Regions from separate parts of the Homo sapiens genome. Here region 1 is linked to region 2. The links come from fine-mapping of genetic effects on plasma protein levels. A gene starts in region 2. The other region holds a variant in brackets. All regions are shown on one strand. Distances are between the middles of the regions. Region 1 overlaps CDNF (cerebral dopamine neurotrophic factor). Region 2 holds the start of CDNF (cerebral dopamine neurotrophic factor).

Evidence for each region. PIP is the posterior inclusion probability: the model's chance that the variant is causal. Protein levels are from the aptamer-based SomaScan assay of Sun 2018.
Region 1: its variant is fine-mapped to the plasma level of the CDNF protein (Sun 2018, PIP 0.95). The variant lies in the coding sequence of CDNF. If it changes the protein, the assay may bind it differently, which can mimic a change of level.

Annotation. Positions count from the first base shown.
Region 1 is chr10:14,808,392-14,825,836 of GRCh38, reverse strand. It overlaps CDNF (cerebral dopamine neurotrophic factor), which reads left to right. Exons shown (of 4, transcript NM_001029954.3): 3 at 217-358; 4 at 5,679-6,592. The coding sequence ends at 5,857. Among named protein-coding and RNA genes, the nearest start is that of CDNF, 21 kb to the left of the region's middle. The variant G/C (reference allele first, on the strand shown) is at 5,754.
Region 2 is chr10:14,827,506-14,838,192 of GRCh38, reverse strand. It overlaps CDNF (cerebral dopamine neurotrophic factor), which reads left to right and starts at 156. Exons shown (of 4, transcript NM_001029954.3): 1 at 156-361; 2 at 9,921-10,048. The coding sequence starts at 247. RefSeq lists a silencer at 1-103.

The DNA.
Region 1 (17,445 bases), 16 kb after region 2:
AGTAGAGATGGGGTTTCACCATGTTGACCAGGCTGGTCTAGAACTCCTGACCTCAAATGATCTGCCCTCCTCAACCTCCCAAAGTGCTGGGATTACAGGCGTGAGCCACCATGTCCAGCCTACCTCTTTCTTCTTGATACTGTATTCCTTCATTACTGGAATGATACTGAATGTCTTCATTGTCTGGAACACTCAATTCTCTTCATTTTCCTTCAGTGCTATTATCTAGGAGCCACAAAAGACGCAGCCACAAAGATCCTAAGTGAAGTCACTCGCCCAATGAGTGTGCATATGCCTGCAATGAAGATTTGTGAGAAGCTGAAGAAGTTGGATAGCCAGATCTGTGAGCTGAAATATGGTATAACACAGCCCCGTGTTTTTCCCAGTAGGTCCAATGGATTCCCAAACCTCTAAAGTTGGGGCCATGTCTTCTAAAAATTCAGTGTTAAAAGGAAAGAAATTCACCACTCATCAATAAGTTGCTTGGCTGATGAATGGTACCTATGGGCATTTGAGTTTCGTTGAGGGAAGACAAATAAATAGTACAGGCATAATCAGCATTAGGTTAAAATTGCCAATGAGGCCTGGCGCGGTGGCTCAGGCCTTTCATCCCAGCACTTTGGGAGGCCGAGACGGGCGGATCGCAAGGTCAGGAGTTCAAGTACCAGCCTGGCCAATATGGTAAACCCTGTCTCTACTAAAAAAATACAAAAAAATTAGCCGGGTGTGGTGGCGGGCAGCTATAGTCCCACCTACTCGGGAGGCTGAGGCAGGAGAATCGCTTGAACCCGGGAGGCAGAGGTTGCAATGAGCCCAGATCCCGCCACTGCACTCCAGCCTGGGTGATAGAGCAAGACTCTGTCTTAAAAAAAAAAAATTGCCACTGAAATCACAGAGTTTAGACTCCTAACACACCAAGGCAAAGCCAGATACGTATGTCAAGGAAAATCTCAACATATAGAGAGAGCAGCTACTCCTGGTGATTTGGATCTTGGTAATCTATTAAAACAAAACTAGTACCTATTCAAAGATGATACAAGGACTTTGAAGATGTAAAGATGACTATGACTTCCTTCCTAGGCAGAGCTACCATTCTGCCAGCTTTAAATTTTGGGAAATTGGTTATTCACATCAAGTCAGGTTTTTCCTGGTAAAATAGCTTATCAGAGGGTGCCCAAAACAAACAGCAAGAAAAGGAAGGAGATGTCCTTTTTTTTTTTTTTTTTTTTTTGAGGGGAAGTCTCGCTCTATCACCCAGGCTGGAGTGCAGTGGTGCGATCTTGGCTCACTGCAATCTCTGCCTCGTGGGTTCAAGCGATTCTCCTGCCGGAGCCTCCCGAGTAGCTGGGATTACAGGCATGCACCACCACGCCTGGCTAATTTTTGTATTTTTATTAGAGACGAGGTTTCACCATGTTGGCCAGGCTGGTCTTGAACTCCTGACCTCAGGTGATCCACCTGCCTTGTCCTCTCAAAGTGCTAGGATGACAGGCGTAAGCCACCATGCCCGGCCAGGAGATGTCCTATTTTAAAATGTTATCCTTGGCCCCATACATTTCACATGGATAGATCTTTTATCATGATTTGTATCTGGGCTAGACATTTGGGTAGATTGAGTGGGTATCATAAAAGGATGTGGAATTCCTTCCTCAGCCTATCCTTGACACCTGAAATCCCACTCATTCCTTTTGCTTAAGTCATTGTTTTGCATGCATTACATACCCAGTGTAGTACTGTCAACTACCTAAGTAATTAGCATCCACCTCTAAGTTATTTTAGTCTTATTTTCCAACACAGCCGTGTAATAGTCCTATGCACCATAGCCACATAGCTAGCTTTAAGTAGGTTTAAGGTTGAAAGTTACCACAGACAACCTATTTCTTAACTTGCAAAGCACAAGCCCTAACTTCCAGGGTAGTTATTAGAGTAGGCATCCCTTTTTTATTGGCTTCCAAGCCATGAAATAGGGGCAGAAATCACTGAGTCCATATAAACAATATTCACAAACTTGGCCGGGCGCGGCAGCTCACACTTGTAACCTCAGCACTTTGGGAGGCCAAGAAAGGAGGATCATTTGAGCCCAGGAGTTCAAGACCAACCTGGGCAACATGGTGAAACCCTGTCTCTACAAAAATACAAAAATTAGCCAGGTGTGGTGTTGAGCGCCTATAGTCCTAACTACTCAGGAGACTGAGGTGGGAGGATCACCTGAGCCTGGGAGGTCAAGGCTCTGGTGAGCTGTGATTTTTTTCACTGTACTCCAGCCTGAGTGGCAGAGTGAAACCCCATCTGAAAAATAAATAGATAAAATAAAAATAAATAAAAGCCAATATCACAAACCTCTTTTGATTTTTTAAATTCAACAAATTTGTTGTGAATACCTTCTCCTATATCCTAGGGATCTTACAGGGCTCCTTAAACAATAGAAAAATCAGATATTATTGAGACGAAATGACTACCTAATGTTTTGGCGATGCTGGCCACTAGAGGCCCTTGGGGAGCTATGAACTAGTTTTAATCTTTGTGTGGACCTTTACTTTGGAGTTTTGGGGCATCACAGAGGTTTTCCTCTTTTTAAAATTAATGCCAGATACCAAGTTCTCTAGAAAAACTCAAAGAAACTACTGACATTTACAAAAAAATGTATTTTTCTCCTTCAGCCTCTTATCTTGAATAGACTAATAGTTCTTAATTATCCTCCCCAGCTATTGTTAGCAGGAAAGATAAGATTAAACAGGGACCTTTGTGCTGTGGGAGATTAATAATTTGGGCTATGCAAGTTTCTACTTTAAAAAGTATTCTGTCAGATCAGCCATGAAATTAACAAGCAAGATAAGTGTGGAGTTGGAGTATGTTTTCAATTAGGAAGGTGCCATTTGGTTTTTGACCTGAAAGAATGTTTTCATTTGCTTGCTTTGTGTTTAAAAAGGATAGGGAATCACTATAAAAATTTAAGGGTTTTCTGGAGCACAGTGTATAGCTGACCCTCTAAATACAAAAGTCTTTTAACATCCAGCTTTTAAATTAGAACAGAGTTACCGGAAGGTTTTGACAAATAATTTGACAAATATTAGGTTTTTAATGTTTTTAAATGTTGTGTTCTACTACTCAGAGGTAAAAAAGAGAAAGAACTTTCAAGAGAAGTCAAGCTGTAAAAATTCTAGGCTGCCACTAGTTGTTTAATAAATAAACTTAAATGTTGTATTCATTATCAAAGTGAACACCGGACAAGCGGGGAGGGGCAAAAGACACTTTTTTTTTTTTTGACAGTCTCACTCTGTTGCCCATGCTGGAGTGCAGTGGCATGATCTCTGCTTACTGCAACCTCAGCCTCCTGGGTTCAAGAGATTCTCCTGCCTCAGCCTCCTGAGATGCTGGGATTACAGGTGTGTGCCCCCATGCCCCTCTAGACTTTCTTTTGAAAGAGGAAAAGTACCTCTTTCTGATAGGAAAATTATAATTATTGGTATATTACAGATGAGCTTATTATTTTTTGTATTTTGGGCTTTTTTTCAATCTTTTCAGCAATTGAGAAGTAGCTGAGTTCTTGATATTTTCTGCACATAATCTATAAACAGCGAAATAGTAGTCTTGCTAGAGGAGGTTAGATGTTGGTGACAAGTATCATTGGCAAGAATTTTAGAAGCCAGGTTGGCTGGCACCAAAGCCCTAGCATTGGAGAAGTGGGAATAACACAAAGGGCTGTACCTGCTGTGATAATTTAGCAACCTAATCCCAGTAGGGGCTGGGCATCAGGTGAGTTTCAAAACAGAGATCCCAAACAATTAAGGTTCAGCGAGAATATTCCTAATTTTATTCACGTGTTTGCATTTCTTTACATTTTTATTTAAAACCCAATAGTGCTTTGTCATGTGTATGTGCTCATTTGCTTTGCCGAAGATACATCTTCCTAGAAAAAGTGAACCATAACTTTTTGCTGGTTAATTACAATCTATGGGTTTCAAGTTGGCCGCAAACCAAGGCCATCCCAAAGGAACCGATTGCCTTTTATATATGAGTTTCCTTCTTGTTACCTTAACAGCAGCAATTTGGATACAGTGCTATTTGTTTTAGGAATACTGATCTTGAGAATGCTCCAAATGGTAGTAAACATTGTGGCACTACATAGGCCCTTAGTTTTGAAGCAAGTATAATCTCTTGGAAAGAAAGTCAAATTAAAAACACAAATTATCCCAATAACTTTGTATACACTGTTGTCCTTCAGTACCTGTGCAGGAGGGGTTCTGGGACCATACTCAGACACTAAAATCCTGATGCTTAAGTGTTTGCATATAACCCATGTGCATCTTCCCTCCTGTATACTCTAAATCATCTCTAGATTACTTATAATACTTAATACAATGAAAATGCTATTTGTATTAGTCTGTTCCCGCATTGCTGTAAAGAACTATTGGCCAGGCGCGGTGGCTCACGCCTGTAATTCCAGCACTTTGGGAGGCCGTGGCAGGCGGATCAGCTGAGGTGAGAAGTTCAAGATCAGCTTTGCCAACATGGCGAAACCCTGTCTCTACTAAAATACAAAAATTAGCCGGGCATGATGGTGGGTGCCTGTAATCCCAGCTACTTGGGAGGCTGAGACAGGAGAATCGCTTGAACCAGGGAGATGGTGGTTGCAGTGAGCAGAGATCATGCCACTGCACTCCAGCCTGGGTGGCTAAGCGAGACTCCGTCTCAAAAAAAAAAAAGAAAAAGAACTATCTAAGACTGGGTAATTTATAAAGAAAAGAGGTTTAATTGGCTCACAGCTCCACAGGCTGTACAGGAAGCATGGCTGGGGAGGCCTCAGGAAACTTAGAATCATGGCAGAAGGCAAAGAGGAAGAGGCATGTCTTACGTGACTGCAGCAAGAGGAAGAGCGCAAAGGGGGAGGTGCTACACTTTGAAACAACCAGATCCCTCATGAACTCACTCACTATCATGAGAAAAGCTAGGGTGAAGTCCACCCCCATGATCCAATCACCTTCCAACAGGCCCCTCCTCCAACAGCGGGGATTACAATTCCTCGTGAGATTTGAGTGGAGACACAAATCCAAACCATATCATTGTAAATAGTTGTTATACTGTATTGTTTGTATTTTTTTTTTGAGACAGAGTCTCAATCTGTTTCCCAGGCTGGAGTGCATGGCGTGATCTCGGCTCACTGCAACCTCCATCTCCCAAGTTCCAGAAATTCTCCCGCCGCAGCCTCCCAAGTAGCTGGGATTACAGGCATGCCACCGCCATGCCCGGCTAATTTTTTGTTTCTTTTTTTAGTAGAGGTGTGGTTTCACCATGTTGGCCAGGCTGGTCTCGAATTCCTGACCTCAGGCAATCCTCCCGCCTCAGCCTCCCAAAGTGCTGAGATTACAGGCATGAGCCACCGTGCCCAGCCCTGTTTGTATTTTTTAATTGTTGTAGTGTTATCTTTAATTTGTTTAGAATATTTTTGATCTGCTGTTGGTTGAATCTGCAGATGCAGAACCCACTGATAGAGAGGGCTGCTGTACCACATTTTCCTTGGGTGTGTCTTGGTTTCCATGGAAACTGGAATTCTTCCCTGCCTTGGATCATAGGGTAGTCAGCACCAAGATAAGCAAACTATATGCCTTTTGAAGTGATTCATAGGGATTTTTTTTCCATTTATTTTGTAATTGGCTTTTTTCCTTTTTGCCATTTAGAAAAAACACTGGACTTGGCATCAGTTGACCTGCGGAAGATGAGAGTGGCAGAGCTGAAGCAGATCCTGCATAGCT[G/C]GGGGGAGGAGTGCAGGGCCTGTGCAGAAAAAACTGACTATGTGAATCTCATTCAAGAGCTGGCCCCCAAGTATGCAGCGACACACCCCAAAACAGAGCTCTGATCTCCAATGCCAGCACATTTGTGACTTGTAATTAGAGAGAAAAGTGACTCTCTAGGATATGGACATGTTGATTAAGGATAACTGGGAATGCATCATATTTGGTCTCATGCTTTTTGTGTTGGTATTATTCCTCAGAATTTTGTTACGTGGGTTTATGAGTGAAACTAATACTACTGATAACTTACATTTGCAGTGTACCAAAAGCTAAAAGTTCCTTTCTCATAAGTTTCTTGGAATGACTATGCCAGTTTTCATTGCCTGTCTCCTAAAAGTGACCTACTGACAAATTGATGGAGTAAATTGATTCCAAGAAAGAAGAAGGCATTCAGAGACTCCTCTCTGGATGCAATTTTAAAATATATTGGACTAAAACAAAAGACACAACAGTCAGCTTATCTAATGCACAACTTCAATCCCAAATACAGAATCAAAAGTTTTTTTCAAGTGAATTTTCTGTTTTCACTCTATATTGTAGCTCTCTTTGGTATCAGAAATGGTCAGGCAGGAGTACTCGTTTTTCCCATTGGAAGAAAACCCACTTAAACCTACTTAAAGAAAATAGAGAGATCAAGAAACCGTATAAGTATAGCCAATGTTTGGCAATTATATCAACATTTACATTGTTAATTGAACCAAGCTCAAGGTCTTTTTCATTCCTTACAGTCACATATCAGACAAGTTTTTGATGGAAGATTAAAGCATATTAAAAACACTCATAGGCAACTTGGAACTTTACCATTGTTAATGCTATTTTATCAGCTTTCGGTTGTAAAATCATCTTTGGTTCCATTTTCTGGCCACATAAGAATAAGAAACCCACAGTAGAAGTGTCCGCCTCTGTGTGGCAGGTACAGCTGGGGAATACTGAAAAAACATTTCCTTGGAACTTTCTGGAGTGATGGGAATGTCCTATATCTTGATTGACATGGGGATTACATGGGTTAATAACATTGTCATCTGGTAGGATAATTAAGATCTGGGCATTTTATTGTATGTACATAATATCTTTAAAAACTGCTGTAGAAAAATTATTTGGAAATTAACTAAAATTAATTAATTCAACACACCTTGTTTGCTAGGCACAGTGGCTCACACCTGTAATCCCAGCACTTCAAGAGGCTGAGGCGGGAGGATTGCCTGAGTCTAGGAGTTAGAGATCAGCCTGAGCAACAGAGTGAGGTTCCGTCTCCACCAAAAATTTTAAAATTAGCTGCGCATGATAGTGTGTACCTGTAGTCCCAGCTACTCGGGAGGCTGAGGTGGGAGGACTGCTTGAGCCCAGGAGGTGGAGTCTGTAGTGAGCTGTGATCCTGCCACTGCACTCCAGCCTGGGCAACAGAGCAAGACCCTGCCAGAATATATGAAAAAACAAACAAAAAAGCCCACCTTATTTATTCAAAGAATTGCATTTACTGGCTGGGGTTGTTTTCAGGGAGTGGAGGAGACATTTTCAGACTGAAAATATACATCGAAAACATAATTTTTAATTCTAAATGCTGCAGAGGTAAATGCATTTTCAGCTGGGAAGCTGATATGTCAGAGAGTTAGTGGTTCCTAAGGAAATATATATATGATGTAACTGAAAGGTGAGAATACAAAGCTGTGGTGTAATGAATGGTCAAAGTAATTATTGTTTCTGAATTTTGGCAGCTCGATTATCATTTGTAAAGCATCTACTTTATTTTGAATTATATCTTCAAAAAAACCAAAGTTTGTTTTTGGTTGTTTTTGTTTCTTTGAGACAGTCTCGCTCTGTTGCCCAGGCTGGAATGCAGTGGCACAATCTTAGCTTACTGCAAACTCAGCCTCTTGTGTTCAAGTGATTCTTCTGCCTCACCCTTCCGAGTAGCTGGGATTACAGGCGCCCACCACTATGCCCAGCTAATTTTTTTGTATTTTTAGTAGAGACGGGGTTTTGCCATGTTGGCCAGGCTGGTCTTGAACTCCTGGCCTCAAGCGATCCACCCACCTCAGCCTCCCAAAGTGCTGGGATTACAGGTGTGAGCCACGATGCCCGGCCTCTCCAGAGTTTTCTTTTCTAAACTTCTTATAACCTTTATATCTGTTTTTATTTTTGCATTTTGAACCTATCAAGAAATGTGTTGTTTGAAAATATTATGTTTGGTGTCTGACCTCAAAATCGGGTCGCATTTCTATGTCTTTTCTTCAGGATACAAATTGAGGTAATAGAAACAGTGCTCAGCCAGTCATTTGTATCCATGGTGTTTAGTCTGTTTTTTTTTTTTTTCTTTCTTTTTGGACAGAGTCTCACTCTGTCACCCAGGCTGGTATGCAATGGCGCTATCTCAGTTCACTGCAACCTTTGACTCCCAGGTACAACTGACTCTCCTGCCTTAGCCTCCCCAGTAGCTGGGATTACAGGCGTGCACCACCACACCTGGCTAATTTTTGTATTTTTAGTAGAGATCGGGTTTCACTATGTTGGCCAGGGTGGTCTCAAACTCCTGACCTCAAGCGATCCACCTGCCTCATCCTCCCAAAGTGCTGGGATTACAGGCATGAGCCACTGTGTCCGATCTAGTCTGTTTTTTTGTTTGTTTGTTTGTTTTAAAGAGAATTTACATCAGTGCTTCTCAAACTGCACATATGGTGTTTATCACAGCACAATTCACAATTGCAAAGATATGGAACCAACCTAAGTGCCCATCAACTGGTAAGTGGATAAAGAAAATGTGTTTGGCCGGGCGCAGTGGCTCACGCCTGTAATCCCAGCACTTTGGGAGGCCGAGGCGGGCGGATCACGAGGTCAGGAGATCGAGACCATCCTGGCTAATATGGTGAAACCCTGTCTCTACTAAAGATACAAAAAATTAGCTGGGCGTGGTGGTGGGCGCCTGTAGTCCCAGCTACTCGGGAGGCTGAGGCAAGAGAATGGCGTTAACCCGGGAGGCGGAGCTTGCAGTGAGCTGAGATTGCGCCACTGCACCTCAGCCTGGGCAACAGCGCAAGACTCTGTCTCAAAAAAAAAAAAAAAAAAAGAAAATGTGTTTATGTTATCAGGCATAACAAACATAATACAGCATGGAATACTACTTAGCCATCAAAAAGAACAAAATCATTCTTTTGCAGCAACTTGGATGGAAGTGGAGGCTATTATTCTAAGTGAAGTAACTCAGGAATGGAAGACTAAATCTGTATGTACAAACCTCTATGTTCTCACTTATAAGTGGGAGCTAAGCTATAGGGTAAGCAGAGACATAAAGAGAGGTATAATGGCCATTGGCGATTCAGAAGCAGGGAGAGTGGGAGGAAGGTAAGGGATAAAAAACTACATATTGGGTACAATGTATGCTACCTGGTGACAGGTGAGCCAAAATCTCAAACTTCACCACTGTACAATTCATCCGTGTAACCAAAAACCACTTGTACTCCAAAAGTTATTGAAATAAAAAATAAATAGCTGAAAAGTAAAAACAAAAACTGGGCGTAGAGGCAGTCTTGTTAAAGTAGGGGTTCTGATTCAGTGGGTCTGGGGTGGGGCCTGAGATTCTGCATTGCTAATGAGCTGCCAGGTGATGTCCACACTACCCTTCCAGGACCACGCTTTGAGTAGCAAAGGCCTAGGTCAAGGATCCTGCAACTGATACATACTTTTTTCCCTTTGCCAGTATCAACCTAAATAGTAAACAGAGAAAGGCTCTCTAAAAAAAGATGTTTGTTTTGGGAATAGAGCATTGCAATGGGAATACACAAGCCTTAGTAAACTATGCGTATTCAAGGGAGGTAAAGGAAGACAAAGGTTTTTAAAGATAAAAATGAGGGGCTGGGTGTGGTGGTTCACACCTGTAATCCCAGCACTTTGGGAGGCCAAGGCAGGTGGATCACCTGAGGTCAGGGGGTTCCAGACCAGCCTGGCTACCATGGTGAAACCCCGTCTCTACTAAAAATACAAAAAAATTAGCTGGGCATGGTGGTGCGTGCCTGTAATCTCAGCTATTGGGGGAGACTGAGGCAGGAGAATCGCTTGAACCCGTGAGATGGCGGTTGCAGTGAGCTGAGATCATGCCACTCTACTCCACTCCAGCCTGTGTGACGGAGCAAGACTCTGTCTCAGACAAAAAAAAAAAGAGGAGGATTGCATAATTGTTTTGAAATAATTATCCTTGACCACAAAGATCAATCACAAGAGTGATGCTAGTCTGAGTTTGGACAGATAGTCTCCGGGTCAATGCCCTTGCAGAAGAATTTTCTTGTGTGAAGTTGTGATGGCTTTTGTGGAGGATTATGATTTTTGCAGTCTTTTGTGATTGTTTATGTTATCAGGCATACAAGCCTGAGAACCCTCTTTTCATGGCCTCCCCCAGCTCTGTTTTCAGGGTTTTCTTACCATTTGTGACCCCATTCTGATTCTCATGACTTTCACACCAGTCTTGATCAGTTATGTTTTTGATAGAGTTGAATGTAACAATAACAACAGCAACAACAAAATGAAACAGAAAAGTACAAGAATTTATTCTCCCATGTAAAAGAAGTCCAGAAGTAGCCAGTCCAGGGTAAATATGGCAGCTCCACAGTTATTAGGGACTCAGCTTGAACTTTTTGCTTCCCATCCTAGTGGTGGGTTTCACTTCTAGCCCGTTGGCCTAGTTGGATGCTGCAATTTACTATTTCAGAAGGGAGAAGGCATGAAAGAACTTGCCTCTAACCCGAGCCCACTTCTTTTTTTTTTTTTTTTGTTCGAGATGGAGTCTGGCTCTGTGGCTCAGGCTGGAGTGCAATGGCACGATCTCGGCTCACTGCAACCTCCACCTCCCAGGTTCAAGCGATCCTCCTGCCTCAGCCTCCTGAGTAGCTGGGATTAGAAGCGCGCGTCACCACACCCGGTTAATTTTTGTATTTTTAGTAGAGACGGGGTTTCACCATGTTGGCCAGGATGGTCTCAATCCCCTCACCTTGTGATCTGCCCGCCTTGGCCTCCCAAAGTGCTGGGATTACAGGCAGGAGCCACTGTGCCCGGCTACTACTTGTTCTTGTTCTTGTTCTTTTTTTTTTTTTTTTTGAGACAGAGTCTCGCTCTGTTGCCCAGGCTGGAGTGCAGTGGCGTGATCTTGGCTCACTACAACCTCTGCCTTCCCGGTTCAAGCGGTTCTTGTGCCTCAGCCTCCCAAGTAGCTGGGATTACAGGTATCTGCCACCATGCAGGGCTAATTTTTTTTATTTTTAGTAGAGATGGGGCTTCACCATGTTGGCCAGGCTGATCTTGAACTCCTGACCTCAGTTGATCCACCTACCTTGGCCTCCCAAAGTGCTAGGATTACAGGCATGAGCCACCGCACCCGGCCCTGAGCCTTTCTTTAAGGGAGCCTCCCTCCCTCTACCTACCTCCACTCCCACCCTCATATCTCACTTAACACTCTGCTTATACACCATTGACCAGAGCTTTTTTATTAAAAAGGTTTTTTTAAAAAAAAATTTATTTTTAACTTTTAGGTTTGGGAGTACATGTGCAGGTTTATTATATAGGTAAACTTGTGCCATAAGGGTTTGTTGTCACTCAGGTATTAAGCCTAGTACCTAGTTATTTTTTCCTGATCCTCTCCCTCCTCCCAGCCTCCATCCTCCAACAGGCCCCCGTGTTTGTTGTTCCCTTCTTTGTGTCCATGTGTTCTCATTATTTAGCTCTCACTTCTCAGTAAGAACATGCAGTATTTGGTTTTCTGTTCTTGTATTAGTTTGCTAAGGATAATGGCCTCCAGCTAGCTCCATTCATGTTCCTGCAAAAGACATGATCTTGTTCTTTTTATGGCTGTGTAGTATTCCATGATGTATATGTACCATATTTTCTTTATCCAGTCTACCGTTGCTGGGCATTTAGCTTGATTCCATGTCTTTGCTATTGTGAAAAGTGCCATAATGAACATATACATGCATGTACTTTTTTTTTTTTTGAGACAGTCTCACTCTGTTGCCCAGGCTGGAGTGAAGTGGCATGCTCTCAGCTCACTGCAGTCTCTGCCTCCCGGGTTCAAGTGATTCTTGTGCCTTAGCCTCCCGAGTAGCTGGGATTACAGGCACACACCACCGAGCCTGGCTAACTTTTGTATTTTTAGTAGAGATGGGGTTTCACCATGTCGGCCAGACTGGGTCTTGAACTCCTGACCTCAAGTGATTCACCTGCCTCAGCCTCCCAAAGAGCTAGGATTATAGGCGTGAACCACTGTGCCTGGCCGAATGTGTCTTTATAATAGAATGATTTATATTCCCTTGGGTATCTACCCAGCGATGGGTTTGCTAGGTTAAATCACTGACCAGGACTTAATCACATGTCCAACTTGGCTGCAAAGGAGTTCAGGAAATAATATCTTTTGGTTGGGTTCATTGTTACCCAAATAAAATCATATATATATGATGAATATATATATGAATATGTATGAATATATATGTGTGTGTGTGTGTGTATATATATATATATATATATATATATTTTTTTTTTTTTTTTTTTTTTTTTTTGGTTACTGAGGAAGAAGGAGGAAATAGTCTGTGGCCACAAACCATCTTTGCCACACAGCATAAATTTTTCCTAACTCTGCATCTTAGTGATGATTCCTGGTTATGATACCCTCAATAAGTCTTGTTCCTCCTTGCTATTTGCATCTTCCATAGATGTAGGCAGTTACGCATTTCCTTCTTTTTTGATTTGATGAGAAGTAGCTACTATTTTTCCTTTTTAATTTTTAATCACTACTCCTCTCACTGTGCATGTGTTTGTGCGTATATGCATTTTTTATCTGTATTTCCCCCCCAAATCCATAAGCATACAAGATTTAGGAGTCGGACATTCTGACAAAAGTGTCAAAACTCTAGGCTAAAATACTTTCATCCAGCCCAGGCATGGTGGCTCACGCCTATAATCCCAGCACTTTGGGAGGCTGAGGTGGGAGGATTGCTTGAGCCCAGGAGTTTAAGATCAGCCTGGGTGACAGAGTGAGACCCCATCTCTACAAAAAATAAAAAATTACCTGGGAGTGAGTTGTGGTGCACACCTGTGGTCCTAGCTACTAGGGAGGCTGAAGCAGGAGGATCACTTGAGCCCAGGAAATCAAAACTGCAGTGAGTTGTGATCACGCCACTGCACTCCAGCCTAGGCGACAGAGCGAGACTCTATTTCAGACAAAACCAAACCAAAGAACAGAAACCTTTCATCTAAACAGTGTTACTGGTGGAGGGTCTTTTGACTGCAAGCTGTCCAGGTTCTTGGCGTTTTGAACAAAGAATTGGACAAAATACACAACAAAGCAAGGAAAGAATGAAGCAACAAAAGCAGAGATTTATTGAAAATGAAAGTACACTCCACAGGATGGGAACAGCCACAGCAAGCGGCTCAAGGGGCCCAGTTACATGATCTTCTGGGCTCCAAATACCCTCTAGAGGTTTTCCATTGGCCACTTGGTATATACCCCATGCAAATGAAGTGATGGCCCATGATCAGTCTGATTGGTTGCAGAAAGCAACCAATCAGAGGCTGAAATGAAGTTACAAAGTTACACTCCTATGCAAATGAAGTCTTGTCCTGCAAATCAGTCTGACTGGTTGCGGAAAGTAACCAATCAGAGGCTGAAGTGAAGTTACAAAGCTACACTCCTACGCAAATGTCTGATTGGTTGTGAGGAGCAACCAATCAGAGGTACTTTCAATTTTTCATCTGCCACCCAGAAAGGGGTGGGGGAGTTGTGGAGAGAGTAGCCTCTGGTCCTTTTGTTACTTAGGTGTGGAAAGTTGGGGTTTTCCTTTTGATCTAGTTCTAGGAAGTCAGCATGAATCGGCTTTAGGTTCCCTGCCTCCAAACCTTATTCTCCTGTCTCAACAGTAGTGGTCTGGGACAGGCATTATTCCAGATCTAGTCTAAATTTCAAAAATTCCAAGCAGAAGACCCTTTACTTTGGCTCTTACATAAACGTGGCAGACCAGATATAACATTTGGAGCACAATCTAAAATTGTAGTTTTTCATTTGGGTGTGGATAATCTGTAATACACATTCCACTAAAAAAAAGTTTTAAATTTAGACCAAATTAGCTTGGCATATAGCACAAGAAAATATTTAATGAGTGGATCCCTAAACAGGAGAGCATTTTGTGATCCAAAGGCCATATCTATGAGTTTGAACACCTCTTGATCAGTGTCATTTCTAAGCAGATGGATGTGCATTTTGATTTTGAGTCTCATCCAAAAGAAGTGATAGTCAGGTAGTCATTCTTCCACTGTGTGTTTAAAGTAGAACAGCAAAAGGGAAATCCTCTTGGGTGCACCATCATTATGCATTTAGAAACTTTTGATTAGTCACTATCATTTATTTTAGTTTCCCCTTTTTGTTTTAATATGGAAATCTTGAGTTTGTAGTATCAACAAGAGATTAAAATTACAATTGAAGTGCATCAGGTGATTCTTCCCTTGATAATAATTATTTTCTGGTAGCGCAAAACAAAGATCAACAGAAAAAGAAATGAGTAGCAGGTATTATGTGTCAACAGTTTGTTTTTGGTATGTTTCCACTGGCAGAAGTTTCGAGAATTGGGATCGAGCAGGCAGACCTGGGGCTGAATTTCCAACTCCCACCAGTGGGCTGTGTGAGATGAACAAACTAAAATTTTAGGTGTGGTAATTGACAGAGGTCAGGCAGCTCATTGTGAGTGAAACGGATCTGTTTGAAAGCACACACTTTAAATGTGGATTTTTTACCTCCAGGCCCAGTGGCTCTCAACCTGGGCTGTGTGTCAGAGGCACCTGGGGAACGTTTAAACGTCTCAAAGGCCAGGTCAATTACTTCCATTTGTGTGTGGTAGTCGGGAGGGGCGAGAGAGTCCCAGGTGTCAGTGTTTTGTTAAAGCTTCCCAGGTGATTCAGTGTGAAGCCAAGTTTGAGAACCACTGTCCTGGTGGTGACTTCGTATATGAAGCTCCACTTCTGTGGTTTTGCTCTCCCAAGGTTTGGTGGTTGACCTTGCAAACTTACATACATGGTCTGGTAAGTGGTGCATTTTCTGTGAACATATGCCTGCTTATTAAGATATCGTGAATTTTCTGTCTATGCTGAGTAATGGATGGATTAACCATATTTAGAACCAAAGAACGGCCGCCGCAGTGGCTCACGCCTGTGATCCCAGCACTTCAGGAGGCTGAGGAGGGAGAATCACCTGAAATCAGGAGTTTGAGACCAGCCTGGCCAACATGGTGAAACCCCATCTCTACTAAAATACAAAAATTAGCCAGGCATGGTGGTGGGCACCTGTAATCACAGCTACTTGGGAGGCTGAGGCAGGAGAATCGCTTGAACCCGGGTGGCAGAGGTTGCAGTGAGCCGAGACTGCGCCACTGCACTCCACCCTGAATGACAGAGCGAGGGCGGGGGTCGGGGGGAAGAACCAAAGAAGAAAGAAAAAGAGCACATAAAGACAGAAGACGGGCCCACAATCCGATTACCATAATCCTTGGAGCTAGATGTTCTTGGACTTAATAACTTTTCATAGTTTAGAAAGGGAATATGGGGCATATACCCCTATCGCACACCCTCCCTCCCCCACCATGAGGTTGGGGCAGCATCCTGTAACACCCTCCCGTGAATCCACATCAGCTTTTGTCACCAGAAGAATTCAGGTCACTTATTTAGTTATGTAAAAGAAGTTTTGATTTTCAGAGTTTTCTGGATTTCAGGATTTTGAATGAGAGGTTGTGGTGACACCCAGTCTGGGTGTCATCATCACTAACTGAGACTCTGGGCTTTTTTTGAGACAGAGTCTCGCTCTGTCACCCAGGCTGCAGTGCAGTGGCACGATCTCAGCTCACTGCAAGCTCCGCCTCCCGGGTTCCCGCCATTCTCCTGCCTCAGCCTCCTGAGTAGCTGGTACTACAGGCGCCAGCCACCATGCCCGGTGAACTTTTGTATTTTCAGTAGAGACAGGGTTTCACCGTGTCAGCCAGGATGGTCTCGATCTCCTCACCTCGTGATGCCCGCCTCGGCCTCCCAAAATGCTGGGATTACAGACGTGAGCCACCGCGCCCGGCCGACACTTTGGGCTCTTTTGCAAAACCTCTACCTCCCATCGTTCCATACACTGGTAAAAGTTGGAAGCCGGGCGCAGTGGTTTACGCCTGTAATCCCAGCACTTTGGGAGGCTGAGGCGAGTGGATCACGAGGTCAGGAGTTCGATACCAGCCTGCCCAACATGGTGAAACCCCGGCTGTACTAAAAATACAAAAAATTAGCCAGGCATGGTGGCACGCACCTGTAGTCCTAGCTACTCCGGAGGCTGAGGCAGGAAAATTGCTTGAACTCGGGAGGCAGAGGTTGCAGTGACCCGAGATCACACCACTGCACTCCAGCCTGAGTGACAAAGCGAGACTCTGTCTCAAAAAAAAAAAAAAAAAAAAGTTGGAAAGCACCTGGGCACCTGGGCCCTCAGAAACCAGGACTCAAGGTGCCTCACTTCTTTCTTTGGGCCACTTCCTTTCCTGGAGCATGGAGTAGGGTAAGCACGAACTACTCACCCAGGAAGTGTGCTCATCCTCTTGGCTTCTTTCCCCACACAGGTGTGTCAGCTGTGGTTTTTCCTCTTCAGGTCGCAGGAGCCAAGAAGCTGAAATGAGCAGCTGCTTCTCTTTTCTGCAGCCCCCACCCTCAGGACTCCTTTCTCATCAGACTAAAAAAGACTACCTTAGTCAGGCCGGGCCGTGGCTCGCGCCTGTAATCCCAGCACTCTGGGAGGCCGAGGCGGGCGGATCACGAGGTCGGGAAATGGAGACCATCCTGGTTAACACGGTGAAACCCCGTCTCTACTAAAAATACAAAAAATTAGCCGGGCTTGGTGACGGGCGCCTGTAGTCCCAGCTACTCGGGAGACTGAGGCAGGAGAATGGCGTGAACCTGGGAGGCAGAGCTGGCAGTGAGCCGAGATTGCGCCACTGCACTCCAGCCTGGGCGACAGAGCGAGACTCCGTCTCAAAAAAAAAAAAAAAAAAAAGACCACCTTGTTCAGACTCTGCAACCAACTGTCTGATAAGTCTCTCTACCTGCACTGTTTACAATCGACTGCAGAAGACGTTGTTGACAGAGCTCTAGCCTTTTTTCCTTTTGAATCTTTTAAGACCTATTTTGGAAAGAACGGATCAAATGTTGGCTCCTAGTGATGGAGCAGCTATAAATACATTCTGAGGGACCTTCGGCTGGGCAATTTCTAGCAGGCAGTAAACTTGCTCACCTGCTAGATAATAATATCTAAGAATGTATGTGTGTATCCCAGAAATCCAGGTGTTCCCCTCACTTCTAAACGTCTACTCCTGTCAGCTAAATATTTGCTTATAAATCTCCATTCTTCTGCAATCCTAAATGAATAGGAGATTCCTTGTTGCTTACAGAAATCCGGACTTATTTCCTTGCCAGATATTTACATGTTTTTGCCTCTCCTGAAAGTTTGTAGTGTCACAGCACCTTGACCTTGGGCAGTAAGTGCTCAAAAGTCTGGTTCAGACCCAGACTTTGAACATGACCTCTGTAGTCTGCTTGCTCTACGAGTTTGTTGGTAATTTCCTGAAGGTTCATTTTTTTTTTTGTTCTGAGACAGGGTCTCACTCTG
Region 2 (10,687 bases):
CTCTGCGCTCCGCGGAAACTGCACAGTGCGCACGCGCAACCGGGGAGGGACGGGAAAAGGCTCCTACACTCCGCCCCCTTCCTATCCCTTCCTTGAGAGCCAATGGAAACTCTGTGTTCAGTTGCGTCATTTGTCCTGGCAACTACTGGCAGATTCTTTCCAACCTCGAATTCTGCTCAGCTCGCTTTGGCAGCTTGGTGGGCGGTGGGCGCGGGTGGCGGAGGCGATTGAAGCTGCTGGCCCAGCATGTGGTGCGCGAGCCCAGTTGCTGTGGTGGCCTTTTGCGCCGGGCTTTTGGTCTCTCACCCGGTGCTGACGCAGGGCCAGGAGGCCGGGGGGCGGCCAGGGGCCGACTGTGAAGGTGAGCGGTGTGACAACTGCTTGCATGGCGGCGGCCCCGCGCTGCGGCGCAGCAGCTGTCGGCTTTGGCTTCTCCTGGCCCTGGCTATAAATAACATTCCGCCCAGGAAATGCAGGCCCTGTCCCTCGTTTTAGATCGCCCAAGCCCAGCTCGAGTAAAAAGCTCAAGCCGGGCCTGGTGGTAACGTGAGGCCACGTTGTGGTTTTGCTGTGAATATTAAACTTCAGCAGTAAAAGCTGGTGGGTTTGTATTTGGATTAGAGTTTGTGCAAAGAATGCTAGATTCAGATGATACTGGCGCCAGATTGATTCTGCTGCTTCCAACCAGCAAGATTTGCCTCCCCTTGCACAGAAGACGTCTTTCAAGTCCAAGCTAGTTGGTGACTCCCCAAAGGAAAACAAAACATGGCATTGAGTTGAGTAGCTTAAATCAGAGGACATAGCTAATATTTGTTAGGACTCTGTAGGTGAAAATTGCTTTGCAAAGGAGTACACTGACTCCTTGGGAAAGAGAGGAATACAAAAGAGTGGTTCCTTTTTGTTCACGGTATCTCAGCTGTGAACTCGCAGTCAGAATACGTGAGTCTGTATCCCACCAAGTCCCCTAGCTCTGAGACTTTGGTTTTTGCAAAATCAGCGTACTTCACTTTAGAGATCTGTTAGCAAAGGCAAAGAAGGTAAGTGGCTATGCTAGCCCCTTCCTTCTGGACTCCTGTAGCGCTCACTCCATGTTTTACTGAAAATAATTAGTTTAAATGTATATGCCCTCAGCTGGAAAATATATCCCTAGTGAACAGGAAATTGTAGGTTCATCATATATGTTGAGTGAATGGATGGGTATAGTCGTACTAAAGTTGTGTTTTTGTTTGTTTTGTTGTTTTGTTTTTTGTTTTTGTTTTTGTTTTGAGACAGTCTCACTGTGTTGCCCAGGCCGGAGTACAGTGGCACAATCTTGGCTCACTGCAGCCTCCATCATCGGGTTCCAGCGATTCTCCTGCCTCAGCCTCCCAAGTAGCTGGTACTAAAGGCACCACCACCACGCCTGACTAATTTTTATATTTTTAATAGAGATGCAGTTTCACCATGTTGGCCAGACTGGTCTTGAACTCCTGGCCTCAGGTGATCGGCCCGCCTCAGCCTCCCAAAGTGCTGGGATTACAGGCGTGAGCCACAGCGCCCAGTCCTTAAAGTGTTAATAATTGGAGCCTGGCTTTCTATGAGCTCTGCAATAATTAAACTTTTCTCCAGAAATTTAAAATATCTACATGTTATTACTCGATATAAAGATATTTGTTTAGCTAAGTTATAATTTTGCTCCAAACCATGCTATAATTGTGTCCTATACTTTTAAAACAGACTTTGTGAGGCAAAGACAATTGATTTGATGACTCATCTGGGGCTCCCACTTATAAATGTTTCAAGAGAGACAGCATCTGGATTAATTAAATGGGAAGCTTATGCTGTCTGTCCTAAATTTATTACAGCATGCTGTGATTATTGCATGTCTGACTAACCTGTCTATATATTTCATTTGTTAGGTAAAGAAGCTTGTGTAATCGCAGAGGAAGGACATAACAGTTTGGTAACTAAAAGAACCAGATTCTGCATCCAGCTCTATTACTGCTTATGAGTGATCCTCCCTCCTCAGCCTCCTTTCTTATTTACAACTTAATTTCTTCTCAATGTATAAGATTAAAATGCCATATTATACATACTCTAGAGCGAAGGCAAAAAAACTGAATGGTTCCTGAGCCGTCTCGGACCTATTGATATGTTTCGTTACATTTACAAAATATTTTGAAAAAAATTAAATTCACTGGGTACATTTTAAAATTGGGAAATTTTATGTAAAAATTCATATTTCTGGCTTTTCTCAAAAAACCAGATGACCTGGCAAGATTGGCCTTATGGCTGTATAGTAGAATTGGCTATTGGCTGCTCTTTTTAGAAAGGACTTGGGTTTTGAGTAGTTTGCCGCCCCTACTCTGCCCCCGATTCAAATTGCTTAACTCTTCTTTTTCCTTGCCTGGCCCCTGTAGATATTCAAGTCTGTGAGTCCTATTATTAGGTAATGTGAGGTTTACTGGAAAAACATAAATATTTCCAAATCTCTTTTAAAGGATTATATTATGGGACTATTTTAAATAACTTTTTATTTTAAAATAATTATAGATTCACTTATAAAACTATCTTTAATAAACATAAAAGCACAATATAAATAAAAGAAGTATGGCTATCTGAGGTTATTTTAGCAATAAAGACATCCCAGAAAACTTAAGAAGCTACTAATTTGTTAGGGCATTTATGGTGAGGTTATTCTCTTCATGTAAGTCCAGAAAATGAGTTTCCTTTCTTACCTTGACTTCTTTGTGGTGTGTGACACCATTGACATCTTTCCCTTTCAGAGACTGCCTTCTCTTCATGGTCATGATACTGCTTTTCTCCTTCCTGTCTCTATGCCCACTTGTCCAGTGTGTCTTTGTGGGCTTCTGATCCTCTAGCCATGGCTTAGAATTTTCCAGGGTTCTGCTCTCTTCTCTTCTCTCTTCTCAGTCTACACACTCTTCTTGGCAACCCAAACCAACCTACCTCCAGTCTAATAAATCTCTAACCTTATATCCACTGACCTTTCTAGAGTCTCAGACCTTGCATCCAATTGACTAGTGAACATGCCCTCTTAGATATGATGTACATCAACATCAACACAGTCAAAAAACCAAAGTCATCATCTCCTTCCCTTCTCACTCCCCTAAACCTGTTACTGTCATGCTTACGGTGACAGCATGGGACAACTACCTGGTCACCTAGCCTAGATTCTAGACTTCTCTTTCCCCCTTATCCCCCAACCAATCACTACATCGTTGAGTCTACCTCCTGACTGGTCCTGCTCCTTTCTCCTTACTCAAGTCTAGGACTTCCTTACAGAACTTCAGCAGTTTTCCCCTCCGCATTGTCAAAATAGCATTCTTCCTGCTACCTGTCTCCCTCCTGTCTAGTCCCCTGGCAGGGCTATCATATTACTTCCTTATTTAGTATCTTTCAGCAGTTTCCCAGTTTCCTCCAGGTGCCGCTCCTTTGTTTTCCCACAGTATCTGATACACTTCTCATATTGTTTTGGTCTCCTCTGAAAGTCAAGGCAGTGTTTCTCACCACCTCATGTCCAGCAGCTACCATAGTGCATGGCATATGGTAGGCGCTCAGTTTGTTGAAGAAATGTATGCATATATGCTGTGATAAAATTTTGGGTATATTTTAGTGAGTCAAATGTAGATCTTGAAAAGGACAAGTTAGTATTCCTAACTTTCATCACCTAGATGATACATTGGCAGAGTGATAGTTGAGGTATAGAAATCATATGAAGGTATACTGTGGGAAATACCACAAGAGTGATGAGGCACTGGAATACTGGGGGTTTCTTTTGTAGGAGACAAGAATTAGAGGCTCCTAGGAGACTTTGATGATAGTTTCTTTTTCTTTTTTCTTTTTTTTTTTGAGACAGAGCCTCACTCTGTCACCCAGGTTGGAGTACAGTGGAACAGTCTCAGCTCACTGCAACTTCCGTCTTCCAGGCTCAAGTGATCCTCCCTCCTCAGCCTCCTGAGTAGCTGGACTACAGGTGCTTGTCATTACACCCAGCAAATTTTTTGTATTTTTAATAGAGATGAAGTTTCACTATGTTGCCGAGGCTGGTCTTGAACCCCTGAGCTCAAGCGATCCGCCAGCCTTGGCCTCCTAAAGTGCTGGGATTACAAGTGTGAACTCCCGTGCCTGGCCTGATGATAGTTTCTGCTGACTTGTAGCATTAATCATTACAGCAGGTTTCTGCTTTGCATACTGGATATATTTGCTAATTAAACTCAGCAAAATACATGTTGAGAGGGATCTCATTTTCCACGTGTAATATAGCAGATCATTACACATTCCTTTTAACACTGTGTTCACTTGCCTTTTGGAATAACACTCAGTCTTTGTTCTTATCCTACTTCACTGGCTGCTCCTTTCCGTCTTTTTCTGGTTGTTTTCCATCTTCCCAATTGCTAAACATTGGGATTTCACAAGGCTGAGACCCAGGACTGTGTCTCTTTTCCGTCTCTCCTTACTTTGTGTTCTCATCTCAAAAACACCATTTGAATGTTGATGGCTTCCAGATTTATATAGTCATCCTAGATCTTATACCTGATCTTCACATTTCTATATCTAGCTGCCTTCTCACTGTTTCCAGTTGGATGTTATATTAGTCAAGGTTCTCCAGAGAAATAAAACCAATAGGACCAAACAGAACATATAATCTATATCTATATATCTTCTTAATATCTGTAATATTTATCTATGTAAAAAGAGATTTATTATAAGGAATTGGCTCACAAGATTGTGAAGGCTGAGAAGTCCAAAATCTGCAGTGTGGGCAAGCAGGCTGGAGACCCAGGAGAGCCTGTGGTACGAAGGAAGTCTAAAGGGAGTCTGCTGGAGAATTCCCTCTTCGTCAGGAAGGCTGGTCTATTTTGTTCTGTGCAGGCCCTCAAGTAGTTAGGTAAGGCCCACCCACATTATGGAGGCCAATCTGCCTTACCCAGAGTTCATCAATTTAAGTGTTAATTTCATCATTGCTACATAAAATTAACCATCACAGACGTCTAGAAGCATCTTGAACTTCATATGTCAAGACTGGATTCTGGCCAGGCATGGTGGCTCATGCCTGTAATCCAGCACTTTGGGAGGCTGAGGCAGGCAGATCACCTAAGGTCAGGAGTTAGAGACCAGCCTGGCAAACATAACGAAACCCCATCTCTACTAAAAATACAAAAATTAGCTAGGTGTGGTGACATGCGCCTGTAATCCCAGCTACTCAGGAGGCTGAGGCACAAGAATCACTTCAATCCAGGAGTTGGAGGTTGCAGTGAGCCGAAATGGCACCGCTGCACTCCAGCCTGGGCAACACAGCGAGATTCTGTCTCAAAAAAAAAAAAAAAAAAAAAAAAAGCAAAAAAAGAAAGATTAGATTCCTGCTTGTCACCATAAACTGCTTCTCCTGCAGTCTTCCTCATTTCAGCAGATGGCAACTCCACGGTTCCAGTTTCTTGGCCAAAATTATTGGGATTATCTTTGATTCCTCTCTCTCTCCCCAACTCTGACACATTACATCTGGCTTATTAGTAAATTCTTTTGGCTCTTCCTTCAAGATAGGTCCAGAGTGTAACCACTTCTCATGACTGCTGTAGCTACTGCCCTGGTCTAAGAGATGCAACTATTTTGAGAACCTCTAAACTGGTCAGCTGGTCTCCCTGCTTTCTTTTCTGCTTCCTTGTAATCCATTCTTCAGACAGCCTTCAGAGACATCCTTTATGAATCATGTCGGACCATAACTCTTCTCTACTCAAAACCTTAAATGGCTTCCCTTCTCAGAGTGACATCCAGAGACCTTACCAAGCTTGAAAGGCCCTGGATGCCCCAGCATGCTGCTGCCTATTTGATCTCATTTGCTACACACCTCCCTCTTGCTCCCTCTACTTTAGCCACACTGGCCTTCTGGCTGTTCCTTGAAGCCACCAAGGACACTCCTGCATTTGAGCCTTGGTACTTGCTGTTCCTTCTGCCTGCGGAGTTCTTCCTCAAGTCATCCACTTAAATTGTTCTTCCACTTCCTTCAGGTGTCTGCTTGAATATCACTTTATCTAAGAGATCTTTCCTAACCAATCCATTAAGAATCGTACTATTACCTTGTCACCCTCCATCCTCCTTACCATGTTTATTTTTCTTCTTTGCTACGTATACCTTTACTTCTATCGGATGTAACTCTCAAGGGCAAGTTCTTTGTTTTCTTCATTACTGAATCTTAGGAACCTAGAATACTGTTTTGCACTTACTAGTCGCTTAGTAAATATTTGTTAAAAACATGAATAACTGGCTATTATGTTTAGTATTCTGTTCATGTTGATAGCATTAGAAATAAAAATATATGGGCTAGGCACGGTGGCTCACACCTGTAATCCCAGCACTTTGGGAAGCCGAGGTGGGCAGATCACCAGGTGAGGAGATCGAGACCGTCCTGGCCAACATGGTGAAACCCTGTCTCTACTAAAAATACAAAAACTTAGCTGGGTGTGGTGGCACACGCCATTAGTCCCAGCTACTCAGGAGTCTGAGGCAGGAGAATTGCTTGAACCTCAGAAGGTGGAGGTTGCATTGAGCCGAGATCACACCACTGCACTCTAGCCTAGGCAACAGAGCGAGACTCCATCTTGAAAAAAAATATATATATATATATGTGTGTGTGTGTGTGTGTATATATGTATTATATATGTGTATATATGTATTTTATATATATGTATATACAGTATATATATGTGTGTGTATATATATATATATATATGACTTTAAGCTCTAAAAGATGACATGATTGGCCAGTCATCTAAAAGCAACTGAAAATACTGGATAAAATAAAAATGTGAAAATATTGTAAAGTATGAGTTGGGAAGGCATACCCAGAAGCCAACCACAGAGTGGAAGTGGGAGTCCAGGGGGTTGAAGGGAGCACTGAAGCTGGCTTTACCTGGGAGCATTTGTTAGCCAGGTGATCTGAACTGAAGTTTTCATGGTTTTGGCTAAATAAACACAAGTCCCAGGCATTTCCAAGTTAGGAGAGTGAGAGCAGATCCTCTACCAACTAATTCAGGGCCCCAAAGACCTAGCCCTTCATTATAAAGGGTGAACTGAAAGTAACTACAACCTATTTCCATCTTTAGAGACTAAAAGAAATGGTTTCACTTGAACATTTTTACTGATAAAAGGAAAAACAAAACTTTCTTGATAACTCATAATTACAAGCTCGTGCACATAGGTAGGGGTCAAAGGCCCCATTCACACTACTAGGATGATCTGAAACATCTCGAACTGATAATTTAGTTGAAAGTGATTTTAAGTAGATCATACCCTCAGGAATCAGCAAATGTGAGTCTTGTTTTTGTTTTTGTCTTGTTTTGTTTTTTGAGACGGAGTTTCACTCTTGTCGCCCAGACTGGAGTATAATGGTGTGATCTCGGCTCACTGCAACCTCCGCCTCCCGGGTTCAAGCATTTCTCCTGCCTCAGCCTCCCAAGTAGCTGGGATTACAGGCACCTGCCACCACTCCTGGCTAATTTTTGTATTTTTAGTAGAGACGGGGTTTCATCATATTGGCCAGGCTGGTCTCGAACTCCTGACCTCAGGTGATCCACTCACCTTGGCCTCCCAAAGTGCTGGGATTACAGGCATAAGCCACCGTGCCCAGCCAGCAAATGTGAGTCTTACTTACAGGAACCCACATTCAACCTAGTCCTCAAAGAATTCATACAGTTAAAGTTCTAAGAAATAGAGCTGCCACTTAGAAAAGTCATGAACCCCTAGGGAAGAAGGGCACATAAGTGAGAGCCAGCTGGAACAAAAAACAGAAGAGGCACACCCCTGCAGTGGCTTCAGGTATTGGAATAATCAGGCATAGAAGTTATGTTTTTTTATGTTTAAAGAAACATAGAACATAAACCGAACCCATCCCTACCCATAGGGGACTATAAGGAAATTTACCTTGACACTGAGCAAAGTAGAAAAAAGAAAAAATATATATCTCTGAGAAATGATAACAACAAAACGTCCCTCACTTGTATTTGCAGCCAAAATTCACATCGGGGCCCAAAAACTTCAAGCTATATATTTAGTTTAAAGCAGTGCCTGGCTAGTTGCCCTTAGTCCCTGAGAAATACAAATACAAATCCTTACTGGAAATAATGCTCCTTCATCTCAGGCTTCAAACAATCTTCACAAATAAGTTTTGAGACGTATGAGTATCGTGTGGCGCAAAATAAGCAAGCACACAAAGAAACGAGGCACCAGGAACAAGAACCTATAGAAACAACAACAAATAGAAACGTACTCTGGGCCTGATGCAGTGGCTGTAATCCCAGCGCTTTGGGAGGCCGAGATGGGCAGATCACTTGAGGTCAGGAGTTTGAGACCAGCCTGGCCAACATGGTGAAACCTCGTATCTACTGAAAATATAAAAATTAGCAGGGTGTGGTGGCGAGCGCCTGTAATCGCAGCTACTTGGGGGGCTGAGGCAGGAGAATCACTTGAGCCAGGGAGGCAGAGGTTGCAGAGAGTTGAGATTGCGCCATTGCACTTAAGCCTGGGTGAACAGAGCGAGACTTCGTCTTAAAAAACAAACAAACAAACAAAAAAAACTCTGAAGACTTCAGATATTGAAATTTTCACACACAGATCATAATTAAGTTTAGTGTGTTTAAAGATATAAAAAACAAGCTTGAAAGTATCTTCAAGATATAAGGAACTAGAAGAAATGACCTAACAAGCCTCCCATTTTAGCCTCCTCAGTAGCTGGGACCACAGGTGTGTGCAGAGACAGAGTCTTACTGTGTTGCCCAGGCAGGTCTCAAACTCCTGGCCTCAAGAGATCCTCTCGCCTTGGCCTTGCAAAGTGTTGGGATTACAGGTGTGATCCACTATGCCCAGCCTGATTTCACTTTAGGCTCATAACGATGGAAATAAAGACTTATGCAGATCACCAAGGGGCTTCATTCAGGATTCTTATTCAGGTTTTTCTCTGTGCTTACAATTATGCTGTCCCAAGATGATAGCCTATTTTATTTTAGGGTTAGCCAAATTTTGTGGAAAAGTTATCATTTTAGGTAGAACTTCGTTCCAATGATTGATTGATTCAATATGCTGTTACAATGTGTCCACTGCATTTAGGCCCAATACTAAACTAATAGCAACAGGCCTGAAATCATTCTTTTTATTTATATTTTTAATTTTCTTGAGACAGGGTCTCACTCTGTCACCCAGGCTGCAGTGCAGTGGCTTGATCATAGCTCACTGCAGCCTCCATCTGCCGGGCTTAAGTGACCCTCCCACCTCAGCCTCTCGAGTAGCTGACACGACAGGCATTCACCATCATGCCTGGTGTTTTTTTGTTTTTGTTTTTTTGTGTTTTTTTTTTAGTAGAGACAAGGTCTCACTATGTGGTCCAGACTGGCTCCAAACTCCTGGGCTCAAGTGATCTTTCTGCTTCTGCCTCCCAAAGTGCTGGGATTACAGGTGTGAGCCACCATGCCTGGCCCCCAAATCATTCTTACTTAGCATTGGAATCCACTGTCATGAAGCATTGACTCATATGGACGTTTCTTTTTTTGTGTGTGAGATGGAGTCTTGCTCTGTCGCCAGGCTGGAGTGCAGTGGTAAGATCTCGGCTCACTGCAATCTCCACCTGCTGGGTTCAAGTGATTCTCCTGCCTCAGCCTCCTGAGTAGCTGGGACTATAGGCACGCGCCACCATGCCTGGCTAATTTTTTGTATTTTAGTAGAGAGAGGATTTCACCATGTTGGCCGGGATGGTCTCGATATCCTGACCTTGTGATCTGCCCACCTCAGCCTCTCAAAGTGCTAGGATTACAGGGGTAAGCCACCATGCCCAGCCCCATATAGACTTTTAAATGTGGTTAGTGGGTCATATGCATAGGTGTGGTAGTGGTTAAGTTGTGCATGCAGACATATTTATTTGTTCCTTCCAGTATGTAAAGAATTCTTGAACCGATTCTACAAGTCACTGATAGACAGAGGAGTTAACTTTTCGCTGGACACTATAGAGAAAGAATTGATCAGTTTTTGCTTGGACACCAAAGGAAAAGAAAACCGCCTGGTATAGTAAATTTCACCTTTCATTTTCCCCATGTGCTTGAAGAATACTGCTAATAGTTTCATTTCTTAGACGTGAAGTCCTCCTACTTACATGTTTGCCTCAAGTATGTCCATTTTAGAGCACGCAGCAAGCAGAAATCCATCTTCCAGTGACATGTAGTTCTGCGTGTTTTCATCCAGAATATTTCCAGTGTTACTTTACTTTCTGAGTACACCACAGATAACCAATTCTATGTTTTCTTTTTTCTTTTTCTGAGACAGAGTCTTGCTCTGTTGCCCAGGCTAGAGTGCAGTATCATCATCTCAGCTCACTGCAACCTCTGCCTCCTGGGTTCAAAGCATTCTTGTGCCTTAGCCTCCCGAGTAGCTAGGATTACGGGTGTGCACCACCACACCCTGCTAATTATGTATTTTTAGTAGAGACAGGGATTCACCATGTTGGCCAGGGTGGTCTTGAACTCCTGACCTCAGGTGATCCACCCACCTCAGCCTCCCAAAGTGCTGGGATTACAAGAATGAGCTACCATGCCCAGCCCAATTCTACGTTTTCTTAAATGAAATTATGAAACTGAATTCCCAATAAGAATTTAGCATCCTAAGAGTGGGTGGGCTTTCCATTTCTTACCAAGACAATTAATCA